Linked DNA regions of Homo sapiens. The protein of the gene in region 1 purifies or fractionates together with the protein of each later gene. This does not show direct contact. Each region holds a gene or a part of one and is shown on either strand. Other genes may lie near its edges.

Region 1 (3,708 bases):
TGTCTTCCATCTCTATAATTTTGTCATTTCAAAAACGTTTTGTAAATGGCATCATATAGTATATAATCCTTTGAGACTGGCTTTTGTCTCTCAGGAAAATTCCCTTGCAATCTATCCACATTGTTGGGCATATCAATAGCTCATTCTTTTTTATTGCTGAGTTATATTCCATGATATGGATGAATTACAGTTTCTTTATCCATTCACCCATTGAAGTACATTTGGGTTGTTTCCGATTTTTGACTATTAGAAGTAAAGCTGCTTTGAACAATTTGTATACAGGTTTTTGTAAGAACATATGTTTTTATTTCTCTGGGATAAATGCCCAAGAGTACAATTGCTGGGTCATATGGTACGCACATATTTAGTTTTGTAAGAAATTGTCATACTGTTTTCCAGAGTGGCTGTACCATTTTACACTCTTAACAGCAATGTCTGAGTGTTCTAGTCTCCAGTTCCTCACCAGCATTTGGTGTTGTCATATTTATTTCTTTTATTTTAACCATACCAATAGGTGTGTAGTGATATCTCATTGTGGTTTTAATTTGCATTTCCCTAGTGACTAATGACATTGAATATCTTCTCTTGTGCTTATTTGCCATCTGTATATCCTCTTCAGTGAAATGTCTAATCATGTCTTATGACCATGTTCTAATTGGGTTGCTTGTTATTTTACTGTTTTGTTTTGAGAGTTCTTTATATATCCTAGATACAAGTCCTTTGTCAGGTACTTGGTTTGCAAATATTCTCCTCCAGTATGTAGTCTTTTCCTCTTCTTCACAGGGTCTTTTGAAGAGTAAACATTTTTAATTTTGACAGCGTCCAGTTCCTCACTGGATCATCTTTTTTTTTTTTTTTTTTTAGATGGAGTTGCGCTCTGTCGCCCAAGCTGGAGTGCAGTGGCTCCATCTCGGCTCACTGTAACGTCCACCTCCTGGGTTCAAGCGATTCTCCTGCCTCAGCCTCCCAAGTAGCTGGGACTTCAGGCATGCACAACCACCACTGGCTAATTTTTGTAATTTTAGTAGATATGGGGTTTCACCATGTTGGCCAGGCTGGTCTCAAACTCCTGACCTCAAGTGATCCTCCTGCCTCGATGTCCCAAAGTGCTGGGATTACAGGCGTGAGCCACTGTGCCCAGCCTGGATCATGCTTTTGGTGTCAACTCTAAGATCTCTTTGCCTCACCCTAGATCCTGAAGATTTTTTCCTGTTTTTTTTTAAGAGGTTTATAGTTTTCTGTCTTACATTTATGTCTTTGATCCATTTTGAGTTAATCTCATCTAAGGTATGAGGTTTAAATCAAGATTCAGTTTTTTTGCATGTGGATGTCTAATTATTCTAGCACCATTTGAACAACCCCCTGTTGAAAAGCAATTTGGCAATATTTATCATAATCCACAAGAACGTTCATAGCTTTTTTTCCTGTCACTTCTGGGAATTCATCCTAAAGAATAATGCAGAAACTTTTAAAAAAAAAAAAAAAAAGCTATAAGCTTAGAAAATATTCACTGTAACATTTTTTATAAAATTGAAAAATTGGAAGTAATCTAAATACCTAACAATAGGAGACTGGTTAAGTATGGCACACACATGAAATAATATGCAACATTTAAAAATATGTTTACTCAATAACTTTCACCCATTCAGCAAATGTTTACTCCATATCCATATGTGTTCGTGCTGAAGATAACATGGTGAGCAAATTAGACATCATCCCTGCCTTCTCAAAGCTCATAGTCTAGAAGAGAGGATAGAGAAAACAATTCTGGCACTTAGAAAAATAGATTTGCTAAACTAGAGGGAAAAAACAGAAAACAAAATTGCATGCACAAGGTTATTGAAACTATGTTAAAATATATGGGTGTAGGAAAAAATCATTCTTTAAGGCGATTGGATCGAAGACAGGTTTTTTTCACCCTGCTTTCCATACCTTCCATAGTATTTTCTTTTTATGATAATAACAGCAGTAAAGAGCAAAGCTTCAATTGCAAAATAGCTTCTTGCCACGAAAAGGTTAGGAATGTCCATTTGAAGAGGCAGCAGGCTCCCGTACAGCAATCCAAAGGGCATGGAAAAGGCCACAGCAGACAGTGAGGTAGCTGGTGCCCAGCTAAGTCATGCTGGATTATTCAGTCCATCAGCAAGTATCCACAGAGCGTCCACAAGGTAACCGGTATCCCATGAGGCACTCAGAATGCTTGTTTAAGAATAGACAGTCCCTGAGCTCTAGAGGCACTTATAAGAAATTCTGATCTCCATCTTCCTCAGGCTTGCCTGGTCCTTCACACCTCACAATGTGCTACCATGTATACGCCCTCATACAATACTCACAACAAACCTGTAAAGTTGTCAGGGAGAATCTAATTATCCCCATTTGTTAGCCACTAAGGCACAGAGAGCTTGAGCAACTTGCCCAAGCTCACACAGATAGTAAATGACAGGCCGGGGGCTTGGACCTGGCCTCCCATCGCTAAGGCCAATGCTGTTCTCAGAATACCACAACTGCCTCAAGAACAGCTGTGATAACAGAGGGCTCAGAGCAAAGGAATAATTAGCAGAGAGCCATCATTAGAACTGAAGTCATGGGGATGAGAAGGCACCGCCTACCACTTCTGGGCCTTTTGGCCAAGATCAAGTGTAGGAAGCATGAGCTACGGCAGGGGGTGGGCTCCCCTCCCCTGGGGTGGTGGGGGCTGGGGGTCCAGGCAGTGAGGGAAATGGGATGCAAACACCTGGGCTCACCTCTCCTCCCTCTCCACAGATGGTGAAGGCAATCCAGGTCCTGAGAATCCACCTGCTGGAGCTGGAGAAAGTCAATGAACTCTGCAAGGACTTTTGTAACCGTTACATCACCTGCCTCAAAACCAAGATGCACAGCGACAACCTGCTCAGGAATGATCTAGGGGGGCCCTACTCCCCCAACCAGCCCTCCATCAACCTTCACTCACAGGTAACACCCAGAGCTGGGTCCCATCTCTTAAGCCAGGCTCCTAAGCCCAGCTCTGGAGCCACGCGTGGAGGAAGGTCCCCTGGTGACCTTCACTGGGTTAGACCCACTGGGTTCCTTTGCCATGAGGGCCCTCCTCTGATGCACTCTTCTTCATATCCATTAGGCCATCCCATCCCTTTTTTACACACAGTCTGCCCTGCCAGGGCATTAGTATTCCCTTGAAAATGACCAGATCGGAGAGGGACAATGTCCAAAATCATTCCTGGCTTCCTGGCCCAAGGTATCCCCCAGAATGAGCACCAGAGCTAAGGAGAAGGAAAGCTCTCCTGGAGGATGAGCTGGGACAGGCTTCTTAAGAGGCTGCGGCTTGCTGAGCCATCTGCATTTCTGGGAAAGGGCATTTGGGGAAAGCAGTCATTCCCTGAATCCTGCCCACCTAATGGGTGAAGCCAGCTTCCCATGGGCCTGCTGCTCCCTAATCATTCTCCAGGCACTCACGCTACTCTGGCATCTCTGTCCCCCTAAGGTTCAGGGCCATGGTCAAGGTCACCTCAAACCACCCTGTTCCCAGGTTCCCCTGCCACCTCCTTCCTGAGACCTGGGAAATGCAGAAATGCTGACTACACGCTTTGGGCAAGATGGGGTTTCCCCTCCAGGGCAGGATATTTTCCCCAAACCTACAAACCGAGAAAGCTGCCTGGCAATACCTTCCCGCCCAACTCACAGACATCTGCATAAGCCACAGGCTTGAGACTT
Region 2 (3,708 bases), on another chromosome or scaffold:
AGCCTCCCGAGTAGCTGGGACTACAGGCACGTGCCACCACACCCGGCTAATTTTTTGTATTTTTAGTAGAGACGGGGTTTTACCACGTTAGCCAGGATGGTCTCCATCTCCTGACCTCATGATCTGCCTGCCTTGGCCTCCCAAAGTGCTGGGATTACAGGCCTGAGCCACCACGCCCGGCCATAAAACTTTTAAAAAGTCAAATATTTTAGAGGGAAGATGAGTTAATAGAAGGATAATATTATAACTAATGCTTCCATAGCTGATACTATGTGCAAGGCTCTGTTTTAAGTGATTTACGTACATTTATTCATTTAATCCTCACAAAAGCCCTGTGAAGAGGCAGGTACTGTTATTATCATGACTTCCATTTTAAACATTTGGGAACCAAGAACCAGGCAAGTTAAGTAACTTCCTCAAGGTTACAGTTAGTAAAAGGTAGAGCCAAGATTTTAATCTAGGCCTTCTGGTTCCAGAGTCCCTGCTGGTACCTACTACTTGCTCAACTGCCTCTCCTGGTATTGTACCTGCTTAAAGGTTATTTTCGGTTTTGTTTTTTTAAGGTCATAGGCACTATATTCTCAGATGGAGCCTTAGAAATACCATTTTTGGGCCGGGCGCGGTGGCTCACGCCTTTAATCCCAACACTTTGGGAGGCCAAGACGGGTGGATCACCTGAAGTCGGGAGTTCAGGACCAGCCTGACCAACATGGTCATTTTCTCTACTAAATGTCCTCTCCCACCCATGTCATTTTCTCTCATCTCTACTAAAAATACAAAGTTAGCCAGGCATGGTGGCATATGCCTGTACTTCCAGCTACTTGGGAGGCTGAGGCAGGAGAATCGCTTGAACCCAGGAGGCAGAGGTTGCAGTGAGCTGAGATCATGCCATTGCACTCCAGCCTGGACAATGAGAGTGAAACTCCATCTCAAAAAAATTTGCTGCCATGAGACTTTTTTCCTTAAAACACACTAAAAACATAGACAATTATCAACTGTGGATACAGAAGATAGATGAGGGAACAAAAGACAATGTCTCCAACTGCCCAGTAGATTTAGAAACAGACAGGACACTAAAATCAATGGGGAGATAGAATTAGTAGCTCCAGGATGAATTATCTGGAAGAGGTAGAACCCCAGGCTCATGTCAGATGAAGAGAAGAAAGAGAAAAGGGAAGAAGCTCGAACACTTTTCCATCCTATATTAAGCATAAGAACTCTGCCTAAAACCCCCCAACACCTTGGAGCACCACAGCATCAACCCCACATTATACACATGGAGACTTGAAGCTCAAATAAAAGGAGTGACTTGGCCAGGAACCAGGTGACCTCAGGGCTCAAAGCCTTCTAATCCCAGCAGAGTGAGCGGCCCCATCTGTCAAATTACTGCCCCCCAGCAGCAATCCAGGACCTGTTTCAGCACCACGGACAGTGCTCCAGGGCCAGACCCTGTCCAATCACTCTCTGCCGCTGTTAGGTTTCAGCCCAGATGACCCCTACCCCTCATTTCCCCTTTGACTATCCCAGGCACCAGCACCTTGCTGAACTCGGCCATTAGTGTGCTGTTCTGCAAACGGAAGTCCTCCTCCTGGCTGTGCAGCTTTGCCTGCAGCATCTCATTTTCACTCAGCAATACCTCGACTTCCTGCAGTGGCAGACAAGGGCCAGGACTCCAGCAAGGGCAAAAAGGATAGGGAGGTAGGGCAAAGAAACAGAGAGAGGGAGAAAATGACATGGGTGGGAGAGGACATAGGGTACAGAGAATGAGGTGATATAGGAGAAAGAGACATGGGGAGGGATAAAATGAGAGACAGGGAAAGGAAGATAAAGACATGGGAAGGTAGAGAGAAGGGAATACAGGGAGGAAGAGAGCGGAGGAAAAGACAGGAAGATAATGATTGGGGAGAGAGGAAGTAGAGATGGGGAAAGGGGGAGAGATAGAAAAGGGGAGAGGGATTGGGAGGGAGAGAGTGAAAAAGACGGAGAGAAGAACAAACAGAAATCAACAGGGAGAGAACAGAACAGGGAGAAGAGGAGGGGTCAGGAAAAGAAATGAGTTAGGAAGAGAGAGGAATGGGGTGGAAGAAACAAGGAGTTAGAGAGAGAAAGCAGAAAAAAGAGAAATCACCGAGACAGGAACAGGAGGGGGAGAGACAAAGAGAAGATTGGGAAGAGAAATGAGTCAGAGAGACAGGAACAGGAAAACAGACAGAGACAGAAAGAGACTCAGAGAAAAGAATGGAAAGAGAGAGAAGGAAAGAGACACAGAGTTAGGACAAATACAGGGAAACAAGGACAGATACAGCAACACATGGCAGTGAGGTAGTAGCAGATGTAAAGGCACACAAAGAAAGAAAGGCCAGTACAAGGAAATATCAGCATACAGAAATAGCCCACCAAGACATCTCCCAGTCACACTCACCCACAAGGGATCCCCTTACCTGAGCTTTCTTGCTCTTGCTCAGTGCCTAAAGTGGGGGTGGGTGGGAAGAGAGCTAAAGTGAACAGAGATGGACTGCCTTACTAGGATATGGAGACAATTGTGCCAAGCGTTTTGGGAGGACAAGGATGACAGGGGTTGCAGGATGGGAGCATCTTCAACCACAGAACATGTGTGACAATTTGGAGCCCAAAGGAATGATGGAATGAGTGTGTGAGTGAGTGAATGAATGCAAGTCTTGCCCTGGGGCCCCAGCACACATAAATCATCCTTTCTTGGAAGCTCTTGAGGCTGGTGGGGGGACAGGGGAGGTAGGGAGATGCCCTGGTATTTAACCATTTATGGGCTGGATCTCCAGACTCAGAAACTGTGGCTTCATTGCTACATCTGTCCATACATGTCTCTGTGGGTCCCTCCCACGCAGTGTGGAAACTGTCGCTCCCCTACTGGGCAGCCAAGAGCATTGCCAGCTTAGGGGAATCAGCATCCTACCAAAGAGAAGTGCAGCTTCCTGACTGTCGGATTTTCTGCATACTGTATTCGTTCATCCAACAAATATTTATTGAGCACATATTATGTATTAACATTGTGCTAGGTATGGCTAGATATGGGGACAGAGCAGTGACAAAGGAGCACCTCGAATGTCTTGAGGGGCCACAATAGGTTATATCCTATCTCATCTTTAGAGGATCTGAGAGGTGGGTTTGCTCTCATTTTCCCAACTGGACCAGGACAGAGATGGGAAGTAGGAGCACAAGGCAGGAGTGTGAGTAGAGGATGGGAGGCAGATTCGAGGTAGATTTACTGATAGATTTGAATATTTAATTAAAAGTCAGTGAATGAGAATGAGTAACTGAAATTAGAAATGAATTAAAAGTAAATTAAAATTAATCACTAAATTAAGCAGGATTAGGTAAAATTAGCAACTAAAGAGAATTCCATTGAGAATCCTTTAAATGACTACGTGAAAACAGCATGCAACATTAGGTCTGGTTCACTGTAGGTGCTCACTGGAGGGATGAATGAGTCAGATAGGTAGAAGCAAGGGTGGATGGGTAGGTGGATGGGTGGGTGGAGGGAGGTACCTTCTGAGCTTTGCTGAACTCCTTATCCAAGTAGGCGACCTTCTGTCGAAGACTGGTGAGTTCTGGTGTCGGGAAAGCAGGGAAACTCAGCCTCAGCCAGTGGCAAGAAACTGAAAGGCCTTCCTGCCAGGCCTCTGAGGGAAAACCTCGGACACCATTCCCCAAAGCCACCCCCATCTAATA
Region 3 (3,642 bases), on another chromosome or scaffold:
ACTGGAAGTCTCCTGGCCTCTCTCTTAAGACCAGGGCTCCAGGGCAGGGCAGTGTCCTCTCCTCTTCAGACCTGCCCCGTGCCGTCCTTACAGGGACCTTTGCTGTCATGTCTGTGATGGTGGGCAGTGTGACAGAATCCCTGGCCCCGCAGGCCTTGAACGACTCCATGATCAATGAGACAGCCAGAGATGCTGCCCGGGTACAGGTGGCCTCCACACTCAGTGTCCTGGTTGGCCTCTTCCAGGTGTGGAACAGTCAGGAGTATGTGCCCCCCACCACCACTTCTGCTCCCGCCACTGTCCTGTCTGTACTCCCCTGAGTGTCTGACCATCGTCGTCCTCCTCTTGCCGTCTACTCATCCCCCTCCCATCCCACTTGCCCTGCGCTCCTCATTAGCAACCCCAGGACCCCTGCCTCTCCTGACTGCCCCTGGCCGCCCCACAGGTGGGGCTGGGCCTGATCCACTTCGGCTTCGTGGTCACCTACCTGTCAGAACCTCTTGTCCGAGGCTATACCACAGCTGCAGCTGTGCAGGTCTTCGTCTCACAGCTCAAGTATGTGTTTGGCCTCCATCTGAGCAGCCACTCTGGGCCACTGTCCCTCATCTATGTGAGTGAGGGTAGGGGGAGGGAGGGGTAGGTGTGCCCCATGGCCTTGAGTGCTAGCTGTGACCTGGCCTCTCCTCAGACAGTGCTGGAGGTCTGCTGGAAGCTGCCCCAGAGCAAGGTTGGCACCGTGGTCACTGCAGCTGTGGCTGGGGTGGTGCTCGTGGTGGTGAAGCTGTTGAATGACAAGCTGCAGCAGCAGCTGCCCATGCCGATACCCGGGGAGCTGCTCACGGTTCGAGGGCCAGGGAGTGGAGGGCAGGGGAGAAGGGCAGGTCAGGCTGGGTCCTTGCCACGTGGGCAGCCTCCTGTATTTGAGGGCCAGCTGGAGGGGGGCTGGGAGGGTTCTTGGGTATTGTGGGGGGCACAGCAGAAAGCCCCTATGTTGGTTTCTTCCTGCCCCTGACAGCATCTCCCCATAGCCGAAATGGTGTTGCCTGTCTCTCACCCTACGTGACTTTTTCCCACCCTCGAAGAAGGTTTTGCCCAGTATCTCCCTCCTCACCTCACAGTGGTTTATGTGTCCCCCTGACCATGGTGCCAGCACCTGCCTCCCTGACTCTGTCCTCTCCCACAGCTCATCGGGGCCACAGGCATCTCCTATGGCATGGGTCTAAAGCACAGATTTGAGGTAGATGTCGTGGGCAACATCCCTGCAGGGTGAGCTCTGGCCTCCATCAGGTCAGGGAGGGTTGGGCAGCCAGGACAGGACCTTGCTTTGGCCTCACAGATACCTCTCACAGGCTGGTGCCCCCAGTGGCCCCCAACACCCAGCTGTTCTCAAAGCTCGTGGGCAGCGCCTTCACCATCGCTGTGGTTGGGTTTGCCATTGCCATCTCACTGGGGAAGATCTTCGCCCTGAGGCACGGCTACCGGGTGGACAGCAACCAGGTCTGGGTGATGCGGGATGTGTAGGAGGCATCCAAGTGTATGGAGGCGCCAGCAACGGGTGGGGGAGGAACCGGTGGGACACAGGGAGACAGCAGATGTGCTGAGGCCACGTGGGGGACTGAGGGTGGGAGAGCAGGACGTGTGGGACAGCATCCAGTCTCTGGGGGCCACTTGGTGGGGATGGAGATTGGGGATGCACAGGCCTAGATACAGTGGAACAGTGACCAGCCACTTCTAGGAAGTCTTCTCACACCCGTACTGTCCCCCGTCAGGAGCTGGTGGCCCTGGGCCTCAGTAACCTTATCGGAGGCATCTTCCAGTGCTTCCCCGTGAGTTGCTCTATGTCTCGGAGCCTGGTACAGGAGAGCACCGGGGGCAACTCGCAGGTGGGCTTTGGGTGTGGGCATGGGTGTGGGCATGCACATTGCTTTGCCTGGGGAAGGAGGTCTCTCCCCTGCTCACTCCCTCCCCGAACAGGTTGCTGGAGCCATCTCTTCCCTTTTCATCCTCCTCATCATTGTCAAACTTGGGGAACTCTTCCATGACCTGCCCAAGGTGAGCCCCCACCCAGCCAGGTTTCAGGTCTTGGCCAGGCCAGGGCTCTCAAATCAGCCAGTCTAGGTTCAGGCGAGGGGTGGGGACACAAGGTTAGGTTCTGTTTTTCAAGGCTGAGATCTTCAAGGTGAGATTTGGAGACAAGGGTCAGGGGCTGGGTGGGGGTTTGTGTCTGGGGTACTGCCTGAGTGCTTGGGCTTAGTCTGGCTTTGCCTCGGTGAGGAGGGTTGTCAGCATCGGGTGCCCTCAATGGCCCCTGGTGGCACTGTCCCCACCCCAGGCGGTCCTGGCAGCCATCATCATTGTGAACCTGAAGGGCATGCTGAGGCAGCTCAGCGACATGCGCTCCCTCTGGAAGGCCAATCGGGCGGATCTGGTGAGTGCACTGGGAGCCCAGGGCAGGGACTGGGCAGCCCCATGGCTCCTCGCCGCCCTCCAACCGCTGCCCTCTGTTCTCAGCTTATCTGGCTGGTGACCTTCACGGCCACCATCTTGCTGAACCTGGACCTTGGCTTGGTGGTTGCGGTCATCTTCTCCCTGCTGCTCGTGGTGGTCCGGACACAGATGTGAGTCCGCCATGTTGGTCCCCTCATTCCAGCTAGTGAGAGAGTACCACAGGGCTCCCCGCAGCTTTCCCCACATCTCTGGGGACTTCAGGCTCCTTCGGACCCCTCTGTTATCCCCTTTTTCTGCCCCCTCTTCGTGCATTCTCTCTCTCCTTCACAGGCCCCACTACTCTGTCCTGGGGCAGGTGCCAGACACGGATATTTACAGAGATGTGGCAGAGTACTCAGAGGTGAGTGTCAGGGGCTGAGTGAGATGGTGTGGATGGGGAGACGGAGGAAGAATGAGCCTTTGTGGATTCGTTCCACACTTGGCCAGGGAACTGGGGGCTGAGGATACTTTGGCTTTGGTCTTTGGGATTTCAAGGGAGGAGTTTAGGTCTATGACCCCCTCTAGAGGTATGAAGGGACAGAGGGAGAGTGGACAGAGATGGGTCTGGGGCTGGGGAGGGGTCTGTCGTGGAGTCAACAGCACAAGCTCCACCTGCAGAGCAGCCGTGGGTCAGAGAGCCGGAATGGCAGCTCCCTGGGGCGCCAGGTTGGAAGGGAGGCATTTCCTGATCTGATCAGTGGGGTTACTAAGTCCTCAGTCATCCATTTATCTCCTGAGAGGTCTTGGGCCAAGTGCTAGGAACATAGGTGGGGGGCTCTGGAATAAAACAAGGCTGTTGCCTGCAACATGGGCACAGTGCAATTAGGCAGTGCGGGGAGGAATTAAGGGGTCTGAGACATGGGAGAGGATGAGGGGGCAGCCCAGCCCTTACCATGCATGCCTGGAGCCCAGCAGAGACCCGGGCTGTGACCCGAATGGGGTGGGAGCGGGGAAGGTCTGATTGATATGACAGCCTAGGAGGACCTCTGTCTGGGTGCAGAAAACAGAACACAAGGCAGGGGTTGGAAACCCAAGAGAAAGGTTAAGAGCCTGTGAAGCCTGCCTGGGTGGTGGCAGGAGAGGTGGGGAGGGAGAGGCACTGTGGGGGGATGGGGATGACACCGTCGGGCTTGTGGCCTAAGCCCCTGGGAGGGC
Region 4 (3,708 bases), on another chromosome or scaffold:
TGAGCCACCATGCCTGTAATAGGCCATTTCCCCTGTTATTAACATTTTGCATTAGTATGTCATATTTTGTTACAACTGATGAGCCAATGTTCATGTGTTATTATAAACTAAAGTACACAATTTACATGAGGGTTCACTCTTTGCATATCCTGTTTTGAATGCTAGTGCAACTTAACATGTTGTCTTTTGACTAGAAACGTCTATTGTATGTGTCTATTTATCTAGGGTAAATACAAACATTTGAAAAAAAAAGAATTTATGTGAATTCAGGGTCTTGTCTTTTCCTGAACTGGTTTTTATTCTGAGACTGAGTCTTGCTCTTGCCTAGGCTGGAGTGCACTGGCATGATCTTGGCTCACTGCAACCTCTGCCTCCTAGACTCAAGTGATTCTCCTGCCTCATCTTCCTGAGTAGCCGGGACTACAGGCATGAGCCACCATGCCCGGCTAATGTTTTTTTTTTGTATTTTTTAGTAGAGAACAGGGTTTCACCATGTTGGCCAGGTTGGTCTTGAACTCCTGACCTCAAGTGATCTGCCCACCTCTGCCTCCCAAAGTACAGGCATGAGCCACCACACCTGGAATGAACTGGTTTTTAAATCTATCTTTGCCCTAGGGAGTGCCAGCTGACATTATGATCTTTCTTAAATATTGGGCTGTACTTTTTTTGTTGCTATTTTCACATTCAGGATCTCATTTGGCAGTCAACTCTTACCCACCATGCCAGCCTCTGCACCTAACATCCTTTCTCATACTTCTGGTGCTTTTTAGACCTCCCAACAAATAGAATGGGGGTGCTACGTGGGAACAGGTTGCTTTCCTGGGTAATAGTAGAGTCAGCTGGGGATCCTACTTGTTTGATTTTGAGTTAAGCAATTGAGTTCAAGGTTTAGGGAAGAGGCAGAGTTTTTCCTAATTGTGCTCTGGGGCTCCTCCCTGGGGCAGGGACTTAGAGAGGCTCGGTAAGAACAGACCAAAGCTTGACCCCCTTCTCGTCACAGAAGCTTTCCCATCTCGATCCTCCCTCACGTGAGGCTTCTCTGCTTGGCCCTCATCCATTTGGCTGACCTTGACTGTGTTAGGACAAACCACTGTTTCATGTAGTTCATTTGAGTTAATTCTAGAATTTTTCTTTTTCTTTTTTTTTTTGAGACAGAGTTTTGCTCTTGTTGCCCAGGCTGGAGTGCAATGGTGCCATCTCGGCTCACTGCAAGCCCTGCCTCCCCGGTTCAAGCGATTCTCCTACCTCAGCCTACCAAGTAGCTGGGATTACAGGTGCCCGCCACCAATTTTTTAAATATTTTTAGCAGAGATGGGGTTTCACCACGTTGGCCAGGCTGGTTTTGAATTCCTGACCGCAAGCCATCCACCCGCCTTGGCCTCCCAAAGTGCTAGGATTACAGGCATGAGCCACTGTGACTGGCCAATTCTAGAATTTTTCAAAGGGAACATTTTTCTTTAAGGAAAATGGAAACAAAGTGAAACATATGGAAAGGTAGTTTATAGAAATTGATTTCTTTCTAAGGAATAGACTTGCTGCTTTCTTCCATGAGCCAGTTTCAGCACAGAATGTAGCCCATTTCTGCCGTCTGCATCCCCATGTGTCCTCATTTTCCCTCCCATCTCTGGTGAGAAAGAGTAGGAGTCTCTCTGTTCTTGAAGACAGGGAACTGTTTTTTTTTTTCTTTCTTTTTTCTTTTTTTTGAGACAGTCTTACTCTGTCACCCAGGCTGGAGTGCAGTGGTGCGATCTCGGCACACTGCAACCTCTGCCTCCTGGGTTCAAGTGATTCTCCTGCCTCAATCTCCTGAGTAGCTGGGATTACAGGTACCAAGCGTGGCTAATTTTTGTATTTTTAGTAGAGACAGGGTCTCACCATGTTGGCCAAGCTGGTCTTGAACTCCTGATCTCAAATGATCCACCTGCCTCGGCCTCCCAAAGTGCTGGGAATACAGGCGTGGAACCACAGCCCCCGGCCATAATTTTCCAAAACCACTTTCTCTTGCTTTTCAGCCTTTGCATATGCTCTGTACCCCTCTAACCCCATGCTTTTCCTCCACTTTGCCTACCTCTTCACAACACCTGGCATGCTTTAGGTCTTAGCCCTAAACTTCTAAACTTGTAAAAAGCCTACTTCAGGTTGCTCCAGTTGTGAAATCTAGCTCCCCTTTCATGGCATTTGCCACATTAGATTGTAATTGCCTGTTTCTTGCCTTTATCACCCCCATGGACTGTCAGCTCTATAGAGGGCAAGAATTGTAACTGCCTCATTTGCAGTAGAATATCCAGGGATTAGCACAGTATCTGGCACATAGAACATATGCAATAATTATTTGTTGAAAGACTGACTGAATAAAATGTGTCCAGAATGGGAGGTAAAAGGCCATGTATACTGGCCATTCTGAGTTGAAATTAACCAACTTAACTAAGCTTATAAATGTGCTGACTAAATTCAATTGAAACATCATTAAACCCACACCATGTGCTAGGAAATGTATAGGTTATGTGCTGATTGATATAATGCTACAGGTTTTTGTTTCCTGTTTCCAAAAGTGTGCATATGTTGTGAAAATGACAGACATTGCAAACATATAAATTGTGGATGAAAATCTGTTATAATTTCATTCCCCACAAAAAACCATTGTGAACAGCTTGGTATATGTTGCTCCAAATTTAAGCAAAAGTTTACTTACCATAAGTGTTTTCTTGTTTTGTATTATTCTATTATAGCTTTTCAATGTTTTCCCATAAAAATCGACCTTATTTTATCACTGTTCCGTAATTAACCAATCATGTGCTGATGGACAGTTGGTTTCTTTTTTTCTTTACTAGAAACAGCACTGCAATGAATATCATTGTACCTATACTTTTGCATACTTATGTATATAAGCTCAGTTTCTGTAAGCAGAGCTGCTTAGTTAAAGGGTAGGAATGTCATGCCTGTAATCCCAGCACTTTGGGAGGCCGAGGCAGGCGGATTACCTGGGATCAGGAGTTCGAGACCAGCCTGACCAACATGGTGAAACCCCATCTCTGCTAAAAATACAGAAAATTAGCCGGGCGTGGTGGCAGGCGCCTGTAATGCCAGCTACTTGGGAGGCTGAGGCAGGAGAATCACTTGAACCCAGGAGGCAGAGGTTGCACTGAGCCGAGATCGCGCCACTGCACTCAAGCCTGGGCGTGACAGAGCGAGACCCCGTCTCAAAAAATAAATAGATAAAACAAAGGGTAGGAATGTTTTAAATGTTAATAGATTGCAAAGTGACCATCCAGAGAAGCTGTACTAAGAGACAGTGATACACTTGGGGAGAAGAGAGAGCAAGGAAGAACCTTGAGCTCACAGCCAAGCTCTGTGAGGCAAGTGTGAGCAGTGCTGTGATTAGGAGCAGTGGGAGTTAGGGGGAGGGTGTGATTGGCTTCTGCCTGGGGGAAGGTTTCATGGAGGGGAATGTTCCTTTTACCTGTACTTTATTATTTTTTTTGAGACAGAATTTCACTCTTGTCATCCAGGCCGGAGTGCAATGGCGGGATCTCAGCTCCCTGCAACCTCCCCCTCCGGGGTTCAAGTGATTCTCCTGCTTCAGCCTCCCAAGTAGCTGGGATTACAGGCACCTGCCACCATGCCCGGCTAATTTTTGTATTTTTAGTAAAGATGGGGTTTCACCATGTTGGCCAGGCTCGTCTTGAACTCCTGACCCCAAGTGATCCA
Region 5 (3,708 bases), on another chromosome or scaffold:
TGGGGAGAAAAGTAGCAACACGTCTGTCTTAATCTTTCTTCTTCATCTATAGTTTGGGTTACACTTCTCAAACTGTGGCTGACTTGATTTTTAAATGAAGAAAGCACAGAAAATAAAGTAGGTATTTTTACTAATTAGCTTTGTGACTTCTGACCACTATCCTGCATGTTACTTTAAAATAACAGACACAAAAGAAAAGCTATGAAAAATTATAAGAATAACAGAAAACATTAATATTAAAATTGTCGCTTATTTCAAAGCAGTCAAGAATTCAGGGCCTGCTGAAAATATCTCATCTGGCCTTGTTTTACATGGCACTCTGCTAAAACATTTTTCTCTGAGCTAAGACTGTGGTGTGGTAGTTGAATGAATCAAAAAACAAGTCCATCAGAAAACAAAATTACAGCGACGTCGTAGGCCTAAGCTTATGAATAATTTGGGGCCTAAATTTATGGTATGCTCATTAGGAGAAAAAAAAATCAAACAACTCAAGTTTCCATAATAGCTTTTTGTTTCTCAGCAGGTCTGAATAATGTACTCTTTACTAAGTAAAAGTGATGTGATGACAACTTTTATCATTATTATGGATATTATCTATCTTCCCTGATTATGGAAATATTGTAGGGCTAGATCTTAGTTACGTCTAATTCAGGACCACGTGTAGAACATATTTGAAATAGCTATGGTCTGAAGCCATACTCTTCAGTGCTGGATGAACAGAGGTTAGTCATGGTCCAGTGGGCTTGGTCCTTGAAATGAGGGAGCCACAAAGCTTAGTTAGTGCACTGTGTTGTTTGCACCTCATTCACTCAGGTCAAGCCTTCATTGTGTTACAGTGTTCTTCTGTTAGAAAGGCTCCTACTGTACAATCTAGCCAATGCAGATTTCTAATCTGCTTATTTATAATTCAAAAGCTTGCCTATATATTAATGAACCCTTAATGAGCTGTTGAAAATGCCTGAATTACAGTCAGATTATTAAACTCAAACAGCCCCGTAATCATACCATTTGAGTGGGCTTTAGGTACTTTTCACATCTGCAGCTTAGAATTGTGAAGGGTATGCGTTTATTCGGAGAAAGCTTTGTAATAATTTTGACCCGTAATTTATTTATTGCCCTCCAAATGCAGTCGTCTATGCAGATGCTCTCTCCCATTATCTGTGGGGCAGGTGCACAGCATGTTGAAAGACAGCTAATTAGGATTTGCTGAAAGATATGCAAAAACTGTAGGCTTATAACAAAGCCAAGTTCATTGTTAAACAATGTTTTACTGTGTTTGTATGATTTGTCTAAATCTTAGGGATACGGAAATGAATGTTGTGATTATAAGTAGATTGCAAATAGGGTTTATTTTTTAAACTTTATAATGTTGTGATGACCAAAGAACCTAGATGTAAACCTTTATAAACCTCTGTATGTTTCATTATACATACATTTTGGATTAAAAACAAGTACAATCAAATTTTAAATGATTGTTTTACCATGTTTCAATTTGAAGATATCAAGATATTTTGATAACCACACAGTCTGATTCATTCTGGCCCTTGCAAATTTAGACCCATTAAAATGTTTATAGGTGCCCAGAGGAGTAGGTATTATGACTAAAAGCCAGTGTAACTCTAGAAAGTTAGTAAACTAAGTAATAGTGAGTGGCTAGGTAGGTAGGATGAGGAATAAAATGGTAACTAAATGTTTTTAAGTAAGAAAATAAATAGAAATATTCAAATTGAAAGTAATTTTGGAAACCAGGTATTAGTATTTAAAGATCCCATAATCATTACTTTGCTTAATAAAGAAAAGAAACCGATTCACTTTTCAGACTAGTTATGAAAATTCCTTTATTATTGATAGTCTTCTTCTTGTTGCCTATTTGCAAAGTACTTTAGTACTTTTCATCTAAAGAACTATGAGTTTTCCGTCAGGAAATGATTTTTCTGATGAAATTTGATGCACATAATTTATAAAGTAAATACAAAGGATTGCATTAAAACATATTTTCCTGTTCTTGAGGCAAGCACTTAGTGTTGATTTACTGATAATTTTAGAAATAAGATATTTTTTCATTATAAGAGTAAAACGTTATAGTAATTGATACTGTATACTTATAATTGTTTTTATTTGTGTCCACGGCTTTTGAGCTTATGGATTGCTTCTTATTGGTACAATAATGATGGTTTATATACGTATTTATATACATATGTATAAAAGTATCATAGATGGCTAATTAGTTTTGTGCCTTTTGCATTTGTTCCTAATGAATTTCCTTCTGTCTCTCTTATGGTGTACTTCCTTGTATGTTTGTCATTGAGCTTCTTCTCTTGTTTGCCGTACATGTGCAGGGAAGTGTAATCATTTTGGGTATGGAAGTTAATCTGCTATTAAAGTACTTCACCACATGTCCATAGGGAAAAGATTAATGTGTTTAACTACAAGGGGAAAACTAGAAACCCGGAGGAAACTTGAAGGTAGATTAAAAAAACACATTTCAGGAGAGGCACCAGTGTCTATGTAAATACAAAAATCAACAAACACACAAAACTGTGGGCAAAAATTCAGTTGAAAATGGAGAAACTTGAGAAGTCCTCAAACAAGAATAAAAAATTAAACAATTCAAAGTGCAGCATAAGAGATTGCTCAGTAAGCTCTCATTGCATGCCAAATGCACAAAAAACTTGCTATGTGAACTACAAGCATGTACAGGTCGTGAGATTTTTAACATTTAACACAGTGAATTAAAAGAGAGGAAAATTAAAGATTTAAATTAAAAATGCAAACTTAACCAATACATGGCAGTTCTAGAACAATATTAGGCAGTCCCTTTTAGTTATAGAAGAAACAGCAAATACGTTTGCCTATTTTTAATTATCAGCAGTGTGTTGGTACGCATTTTATGAGTTATCTTTTTGCTCTCCTAAATGAATATATTGTCTTAGTATATTATAGTTTTCAAACCTTATTTGCCTCTGAATAGACAACAGATAAAATTTTAAATTATGGTGAGTTAGTTTTATTATCCAGTTGAAATTATTCTGAAGTATAATTTTAAATGAAAGTGACAGCTTTAAAGTGTTTTGGGGAAGAAATTAAAGTTTTGCATTTGTGTTAAGGCAACCAAGAGCTCTGTCATGCCATGGATGTAATTCAGGGCATCTAGGAATGAAATCTGTTCTTAAAAGAATTGACGGTAGCTTTAGGTTAGCATATAAAATCAGAGTTGGTGATCAGTTGAGTACTTGGCAGCTTATAGATGTTATGTCATGTAAGTTACACTAGACACAAAGTGTGTACCACTGTGGATAAACAACAACAGGCACAGACTCAAAAGAGAATCCAAATACAAACAAGCAAGGTGCCAACTTCCTTTTCCCCTCTTCCCCAAGAAGCCTTGTAACTAGTGTAGGGAACCTGCTTTGAAGCAGATTTACAGAGGTTAATTGGGCTGGGATGTTTTAGATTATGTTACACATTAATGAAAATGCTGATTTTGAGCTGTCATGACTCCAATGCTTTTTATACCATGATAATTATTTTAAAACTTTGTCTTCTGTGTTGTTGAAAACATTTTGGCAGAAAGCCTGTGTGACCTGATTAAACCTATGAATTGTCAGCTATGATCTATAGTACTCAGAAGAGGTTGCTGACTGGGCATCACTTAGGAAGTTCTTGATTTAAAAGCAAAATTAGATTGAGACTACTGTGCCCAGCACT

What was found.
Region 2: the proteins of PKNOX2 (region 1) and GRIPAP1 purify together in Homo sapiens (affinity purification with mass spectrometry; one large-scale study listed by BioGRID and IntAct). This does not show direct contact.
Region 3: the proteins of PKNOX2 (region 1) and SLC26A6 purify together in Homo sapiens (affinity purification with mass spectrometry; one large-scale study listed by BioGRID and IntAct). This does not show direct contact.
Region 4: the proteins of PKNOX2 (region 1) and ALDH7A1 purify together in Homo sapiens (affinity purification with mass spectrometry; one large-scale study listed by BioGRID and IntAct). This does not show direct contact.
Region 5: the proteins of PKNOX2 (region 1) and PBX3 purify together in Homo sapiens (affinity purification with mass spectrometry; one large-scale study listed by BioGRID and IntAct). This does not show direct contact.

Annotation. Positions count from the first base shown.
Region 1 is NC_000011.10:125,395,111-125,398,818, forward strand, and holds part of PKNOX2 (homeobox protein PKNOX2), read left to right. Parts: intron 1-864; exon of another isoform or gene 865-986; intron 987-2,763; coding exon 2,764-2,952; intron 2,953-3,708.
Region 2 is NC_000023.11:48,995,713-48,999,420, forward strand, and holds part of GRIPAP1 (GRIP1-associated protein 1), read right to left. Parts: intron 3,588-3,708; coding exon 3,526-3,587; intron 2,469-3,525; coding exon 2,442-2,468; intron 1,646-2,441; coding exon 1,538-1,645; intron 1-1,537. UniProt on the Homo sapiens protein: Regulates the endosomal recycling back to the neuronal plasma membrane, possibly by connecting early and late recycling endosomal domains and promoting segregation of recycling endosomes from early endosomal membranes.
Region 3 is NC_000003.12:48,628,848-48,632,489, reverse strand, and holds part of SLC26A6 (solute carrier family 26 member 6), read left to right. Parts: intron 1-93; coding exon 94-245; intron 246-397; coding exon of another isoform or gene 398-445; coding exon 446-610; intron 611-688; coding exon 689-841; intron 842-1,183; coding exon 1,184-1,266; intron 1,267-1,349; coding exon 1,350-1,497; intron 1,498-1,769; coding exon 1,770-1,883; intron 1,884-1,974; coding exon 1,975-2,052; intron 2,053-2,332; coding exon 2,333-2,428; intron 2,429-2,511; coding exon 2,512-2,618; intron 2,619-2,778; coding exon 2,779-2,848; intron 2,849-3,642. UniProt on the Homo sapiens protein: Apical membrane anion-exchanger with wide epithelial distribution that plays a role as a component of the pH buffering system for maintaining acid-base homeostasis.
Region 4 is NC_000005.10:126,585,072-126,588,779, reverse strand, and holds part of ALDH7A1 (alpha-aminoadipic semialdehyde dehydrogenase isoform 1 precursor), read left to right. Parts: intron 1-3,708.
Region 5 is NC_000009.12:125,911,293-125,915,000, forward strand, and holds part of PBX3 (pre-B-cell leukemia transcription factor 3), read left to right. Parts: intron 1-3,708. UniProt on the Homo sapiens protein: Transcriptional activator that binds the sequence 5'-ATCAATCAA-3'.